Linked DNA regions of Homo sapiens. The protein of the gene in region 1 purifies or fractionates together with the protein of each later gene. This does not show direct contact. Each region holds a gene or a part of one and is shown in the gene's direction. Other genes may lie near its edges.

Region 1 (3,921 bases):
GCCACCACACCTGGCTAAATTTTTTTATATTTTTGGTAGAGACGGGGGTTTCACCGTGTTAGCCAGGATGGTCTCGATCTTCTGACCTTCTGATCTGCCCGCTTCAGCCTCCCAAAGTGCTGGGATTACAGGCATGAGCCACCGCCCCCGGCCAACCAATAAGTCTTAATTACCATAGTTTTTAAATTAAATCTTTATAGGGTAGGTCCAACTCAATCATCATTCCCACCTCCCACCCACCTATGTGCTTCAGGCGTCTCTTGGCTTGTACTAGTCCCTTCTATTTTCCACATACATTTCAGAATTATATTTTGATATGAAAATTTCTATTGGGATTTTATTGTTTTACTGAATATAAAGGTCTATTTGGGAGCATATTAACATCTTCATAATAATAATTCCTGTACAAGAATGTAATGTTATCCTTCATTTTTAAGGATTTTGTATATGGCAATAACATTGTATATCATTCAATAAGATTTACAATCTCTTATAAGAATTATTTCTAGTTTATATTTTTCTTGGAACTGCATGTGGCATCCTTTAAAATTTTAAATTCCAATTAGTTTTTTTTTAGAGAAACACAATCAGATTTGTATGTTGATTTATATTCACCAAAGCTGCTTTGAATCCTAACAATTTATCAATAGATTTAAGGGGAGAGAGTTTGCATGGATATTCAAATTATCTCCAATATGATAATTTCGCCTCTTTCTTTCAGATCCGTTTTCTTGTCCCAGTGAACAGGTGCACTATGTTGAAATAAGAGTGGTGACGGAGGCCTTGTTTATCTTGTATCTTATTGTAAAAGGTATTCTTTCATCACTTTCCCGTCCATTATGAGATTTTTGTTTGCTCTTGCTTTTTTGGAACCCTTTACTGGGTGAAGGAAATTCTTTTATTTCCTAACTTACAAAGATACATCTAAAACCATGAATAGATATAGACTCTTTTATATTTCCCCTTTTGCACCTATGAAGATGCCCCTATTCTTCTGTAATCTGTTCAATATGAGGAGCTCTATCAGTCATACCCAGAGCATACTCCCTCCTGACTAAAGCAGATACCTGCGCATAGGACTGAGCTATCAGTCTTCACTAGAGGTCTCCAGGTGATTCCAATAGGCAGCCAAGACGGGCCCCCCGGGTGGAGGATCTAGGACGTGCCTCCGCAAATTCTATCACCTGTTAAACATGCCTTTGGTTGCATTTGTTCCACAAATATTTATGGCCTCCCTCAGATTTGAAAGGATCCTTGCCAGGTGGTTATGTAGACTAGACAGCGTATTCCCCTCATGGAGCTTACTGTATAGATGGTTATCCGAAATTGAGATTATTGGTGGAAAACTTCTTTCCCCCGGCACTGCCTAAGTCAATTGTTTTGGAGGTTCTTGGTCAGATGCCCCATGAGCTCCAACATCATAAACGGGGTGTGGACCGTCTCCTAATCAGCAGACCCTGTTTAGTCCTGGGTGAAGAAAGACAATTGGGGCATCTGGGCAGAAACACGCAGGTGCAGCAGTATTTCCCCTCCATCGCGAAGGTCATCAAGAACCCACCTTGGCCAATCAAGAGAGGAGTCAGCTGGCTAATCACCGGGCAGGCACCGCCTTTTTCTTCCCGCTGCCTAGCTTGTTTGCTTTCGACCAGCCAAGGAGACCTGGTGGCAGGGTTGGTGAGTTACCTTTCTGGCCGATTTGTTTGTTTGGATTTTAAGGTCTTTTTTTATTATGTTACATTGGTTCTTTAGCTTTCTCTTTGGTTAGGAGCTGGAAATAATATGATTGGGGAATAAAATGACTAAAGTTCCTAAGGGCAGGCCAAGCTCTGTTACCTTTTTCAAGTTCACATGAGTAAATTTGGGTCATGCTTTTTTTTTTTTTGATAAACTTATTTAAGTTGACAGATAAAATTGCATGTAGTGTGTGCAGCATGATGTTTTGAAGTGTATGTGCACTGTGGGTGGAGTGTTTAAACCTAACTAACTCGTCATCATAGCCTTATGGATGCTATTCTTCTATGTGATGTATAAAGTGTTAGAGATGAAAAGAATATTTTTATTTATTTATTTATTTTGAGACGGAGTCTCGCTCTGTCGCCAAGGCTGGCGTGCAGTGGTGTGATCTCAGCGCACTGCAACCTCTGTCTCCTGGGTTCAAGTGACTCTCCCACCTCAGACTCCCAAGTAGCAGGAATGACAGGCACACGCCAGCATACGTAGCTAATTTTTGTATTTTTAGTAGAGATGGGGTTTCGCCATGTTGTCTAGGCTGGTCTCGAACTCCTGACCTCAAGTAATGTGCCCACCTTGACCTCCCAAAGTGCTGGGATTACAGGCGTGAGCTCCTGCACCCGGTCCTGAGCTCTATTTTAATGTTAATGCCCGTCAGTTGTGCCTAGGCTCCGAAAGGAAGGAGATAGGAGGAGGTTTGACCTCCCTTCCTGCCATAGTCAATGATTCTGTTTTTCAAGTATCTTGGCCAGGAGGGGGTCCGCTCAGTTGGTTGTGGGCGGGGGGGTGGGGGGGATGGGGGGGGTGGGGCGGTGGGTCTTAACATGTTATTTTTAGTTTACAAATTGATTCTTAACTTTGAGTGCTGAATTTACAGGGGGGATTGGAACAATATACTGGTTCCTGGGCCCAACCTCCAAAGTCTCTAATCAGTGTCTGTATTTCGGGACACTGGGGTTTTTGATAACTCCCCAGGTGATTCCCCTGTGTCTCAGTGCTTGAGAAAGTCTGGTCACAGGTGCTTGAAGTGCCCAACTGTGCGGTGATCAGCTAATCTGATGCAACGCCGACTTGGGACGTGCAATGCTGTAGTGTCAGCTTTTTTGCAGGTGTTGGAGATCACCTCATAGTTCAGTTGGCACCTTATAGTTCAGTCAACAGCAAATTCCAGCAACCAACTTAAAAAGCATTGCAGTGTGGTCAGATGAGTGTACAAAAGGTTGGTGTAAAAAAAGTATTTTGCCCTTTGGGAAAAGTAATAAGAGCTTTTAACACACACTCAACGTTGCATTTTTTTTTTTTTTTTTAGGAAGCTAAGAAGCCATCACTAGGCAAAAAGCTTATGGAATTTTCCTTGAATGATCCTATGTCACAGTATGAAATCAGAAACACCTAAAGACTGAGAGGGTCATGATTAAATATTTCTGGTGCATTATTACCAAACCACTTAAAAATCATACCTTAAAGAACACAAGCAAAGCTCATACAACAGTGTTTAGGGAAATATGGACTGTTTGAGTCTAAAGGTAACTACTTTATTAGACAAACATATCACTAGAAAGAAATACAGTTGACTCCTGAACTCGGAAGTCTCTCAGTTACAAGGATGGGGCTCAAAGGCAATGGTGAAATAGAAGTCAAAGGAGGGAAGAGTTTGGGAATTTGGGGAAGGGTTGGACTTGGTGAGGCTTAACTTACTAATCCCTAATCTACTTGTGTTCACTTAGGGGGGAAAAACACCTAGATACAAGATTTAAAAGAAGAAAACACTTGTGTTAAACAGATTTACAGTGGACCCTTGAACAATACAGGTTTGAGCTGCATGTGTCCACTTATACATGAAGTTTCAAAAATAAATATATTGGAGAATTTTGGGGGAGATGTATGACAACTTGTAGATGAACCAGGCAGCCTAGAAATACTTAAAAAATTAAAGTCAGATATGTCATGAATGCAATCAATATAGATGTGAGTCTACTTATGTGTTAATTGACTGTTGATAAGGCTTCTGGTCAATAGTAGGCTATGAGTGTTGGAAGTCAAAAGTTATACGTGGGTTTTTGACTGCCTAGGGGCTGGCAGCATTGACTTTTGAGTTCAGGAGTCAACTGTATTTCCCTCTAATATGTTTAAGAAAGTGGAGTTACCTTTAGACTCAAACAGTTCATACTTCTGTAAACGCTGTTTTAT
Region 2 (3,821 bases), on another chromosome or scaffold:
AGCCCACATGGCTGCTCTCATGGATTGGAGTCTAATGTCTGTCACTTTTCCAGGCTGAGGGTGTATGCTGTTTACATCCAAAGGATACTTTTAATCTTTCCACTCCCTGACTTTTCTTTTCCTTTTCTTTTTTTCTTTTCTCTTTTCTTTTCCTTTCTTTCTTTTTCTTTCTTTCTTTGTTTCTTTCTTTTTCTTTTTCTTAACAGTATTTAACACATTTGACCACACCTTTCTCTTCTTCTCTTGGCTTTAGTTAGACTGCCACCACTGTGGGTCCTGGAGGGCAGTGCCCCTGTTCCCGCTGCTCTACAGTGAGTTCTCTGTGGGGACTGTAACCCCATATTTCCCCTTGGCACCAGCCTAGTAGAATCTCTCTGTAGGAGCTCTGCTGTGGCAGGCTTCTGCCTGGACAGCCAGACTTCTTGACATATCTTGTGAAATCTAGGTGGAAGCTGCCAAACCTCCATGGATCTTGTATTCTGTATACCTGCAGACTTAACACCACTTGGAAACCATCAAGGCCTATGGTTTGCACCCACTGGAGTGGCAGTCCAGACAGTACCTGGGGCCTTTTGAGCCCTGGCTGCAGCCAGAGCAGCCAGAACGTGGGGAGTAGCATCTCAAGACCGCACAAGGCAGCAACACCCTGGGCCTGGCCTCCCAAACCATTTTGCCCGAGGAGGCCTCTGAGCCTGTGATGGAAGGGGTAGCCTTGATTTCTGGAATGTCTTGGGGGCTTTTCCCCATTGTCTTGACTGTTAACAACTGGCTCTCTTTTATTCATGTTAATTGCTTTAACAACCTGTTCTGTCAGGGCCTGGTACCTGGGGCTAGGTAGTTTGGATTTCTCTCCTGAAAACTTCCCTCTACCACATGGTTAGGTTGTAAATTTTTCAAATTTGTATGCTCTGTTTTTCTCTTAATTATTAGCTTTAACTTTGTCTTTTTTTTGAACTCCCATATCTGATAGTAGGCTGTTAGAAGCAGCCATGTCACCTTTTGAACGCTTTGTTGTTTAGAAACTTTTTTTTGCCAGGTAGCTTAAGTCATTACTCTTAAGTTCAGCCTTTTACAAAGTCCTAGGCATGGATACAATGTAGCCAAGTTTTTTGTTAACAAGCATAACATATAATGTGGCCATTTTTTTGTTTTAGTTTTTAAAAATTTTATTTGAGATCTCATGAACGTGGCCTTTACTGTCTATATTTTAATCAGCATTTTTATCACAACCTCTTAACCAGTCTCTAAAAAGTTTTAAAGTTTTTCTTGTGTATGAGGTTTTTTGTTTTTGTTTTGTTTTGTTTTGAGTTCTCTAAGCTCTTGTAAGCAGCTTTAGTTTTTGCTTTTTTTTTAATACTTTAAGTTCTGGGATACATGTACAGAACCTGCAGGTTTGTTACGTAGGTATACATGTGCCATGGTGGTTTTGCTGCACCCATCAACCTGTCATCTAGGTTTTAAGCCCCACATGCATTAGGTATTTGTCCTAATGGTCTCCATCCCCTTGCCCCTCAACCCCTGGCAGGCCCCGGTATGTGCTGTTCCCCTCCCCGTGTCCATGTGTTCTCATTGTTCAACTCCTACTTATGGAGAACATGCGATGTTTGGTTTTCTGTTCCTATGTTAGTTTGCTGAGAATGATGCTTTCCAGCTTCATCCATGTCCCTGCAAAGGACATGAACTCATTCTTTTTTATGGCTGCTTCATATTCCACAGTGTATATGTGCCAGATTTTCTTTATCCAGTCTATCATTGATGGGCATTTGGGTTGGTTCCAAGTCTTTGCTATTGTGAACAGTGCCACAATAAACATACATGTGCCTGTGTCATTATAGTAGAATGATTTATAATCCTTTGGGTATATACCCAGTAATGGGATTGCTGGGTCAAATGATATTTCTGTTTGTAGATCCTTGAGGAATCACCACACTGTCTTCCATAATGGTTGACCTAATTTACACTCCCACCAACAGTGTAAAAGCGTTCCTATTTCTTCACATCCTCTCCAGCATCTGTTGTTTCCTGACTTTTAATAATCGCTGTTCTAACTGGCATGAAATGGTATCTCATTGTGGTTTTGATTTGCATTTCTCTAATGACCAGTGATGATGAGCTTTTTTTTCATGTTTTTTGGCCACATAAATGTCTTTTGAGAAGTGTCTGTTCATATCCTTCACCCACTTTTTGATGGGTTTTTTTTTTTTTGTAAATTTGTTTAAGTTCCTTGTAGATTTTAGATATTAGACCTTTGTCAGATGGATAGATTGCAAAAATTTTCTCCCATTCTATAGGTTGTCTGTTCACTCTGATGATGGTTTCTTTCACTGTGCAGAAACTCTTTAGTTTAATTAGATCCCATTTGTCAAGTTTGGCTTTTGTTGCCATTGCTTTTGGTGTTTTAGTCATGAAGTCTTTGCCCATGCCTATGTCCTGAATGGTATTGCCTAGGTTTTCTTCTAGGGTTTTTATGGTTTTAGGTTTTACATGTAAGTCTTTAATTCGTCTTGAGTGAATTTTTGTATACAGTGTAAGGAAGGGGTCCAGTTTCAGTTTTCTGCATATGGCTAGCCAGTTTTCCCAGCACCATTTATTAAATAGGGAATCCTTTCCCCATTTCTTGTTTTTGTCAAGATCAGATGGTTGTAGGTGTGTGGTGTTATTTCTGAGGCCTCTGTTCTGTTCCACTGGTCTATGTATCTGTTTTGGTACCAGTACCATGCTATTTTGGTTACTGTAGCCTTGTAGTATAGTTTGAAGTCAGGTAGCATGATGCTTCCAGCTTTGTTCTTTTTGCTTAGGATTGTCTTGGCTATACAGGCTCTTTTTTTGGTTCCATATGAAATTTAAAGTAGTTGTTTCTAGTTCTGTGAAGAAAGTCAATGGTAACTTGATGGGAATAGCATTGAATCTATTAATTACTTTGGGCAGTATGGCCATTTTCATGATGCTGATTCTTCCTATCCATGAGCATGGAATGTTTTTCCATTTGTTTGTGTCCTCTCTTATTTCTTTGAGCAGTGGTTTGTAGTTCTCCTTGAAGAGGTCCTTCACATCCCTTGTAAGTTGGATTCCTAGGTATTTTATTTTCTTTGTAGCAGTTGTGAATGGGAGTTCATTCGTGACTTGACTCTCTATTATTGGTGTATAGGAATGCTTGTGATTTTTGCTGATTGATTTTGTATCCCGAGACTTTGCTGAAGTTGCTTATCAGCTTAAGGAGTTTTGGGGCTGAGGCAATGGAATTTTCTAAATATACAATCATGTCATCTGCAAACAAAGACAATTTGACTTTCTTTCTATTTGAATACCCTTTATTTCTTTCTCTTGCCTGATTGCCCTGGCCAGAATTTCCAATACTATGTTGAATAGGAGTGGTGAGAGAGGGCATCCTTGTTTTGTGCCAGTTTTCAATGGGAATGCTTCCAGCTTTTGCCCATTCAGTATGATATTGGCTATGGGTTTGTCATAAATAGCTCTTATTATTCTGAGTAACGTTCCATCAATACCTAGTTTATTGAGAGTTTTTAGCATGAAGCGGTGTTGAATTTTGTCCAAGGCCTTTTCTGCATCTATTGAGATAATTGTGTGGTTTTTGTCATTGGTTCTGTTTATATGATGGATTACATTTATTGATTTGCATATGGTGAACCAGCCTTACATCCCAGGGATGAAGCTGCCTTGATCGTGTGGATAAGCTTTTTGATGTGCTGCTAGATTCGGTTTGCCAGTATTTTATTGAGTATTTTCATATTGATGTTCATTGGGGATATTGACCTGAAATTTTCTTTTTTTGTTGTGTCTGCCAGGTTTTGGTATCAGAA

The links.
Region 2: the proteins of NLRP11 (region 1) and CRY1 purify together in Homo sapiens (co-immunoprecipitation; one large-scale study listed by IntAct). This does not show direct contact.

The regions. Positions count from the first base shown.
Region 1 is NC_000019.10:55,829,716-55,833,636, reverse strand, and holds the start of NLRP11 (NACHT, LRR and PYD domains-containing protein 11), read left to right. Parts: upstream 1-1,637; 5' UTR 1,638-1,674; intron 1,675-3,921. UniProt on the Homo sapiens protein: Involved in inflammation.
Region 2 is NC_000012.12:107,083,358-107,087,178, reverse strand, and holds part of CRY1 (cryptochrome-1), read left to right. Parts: intron 1-3,821.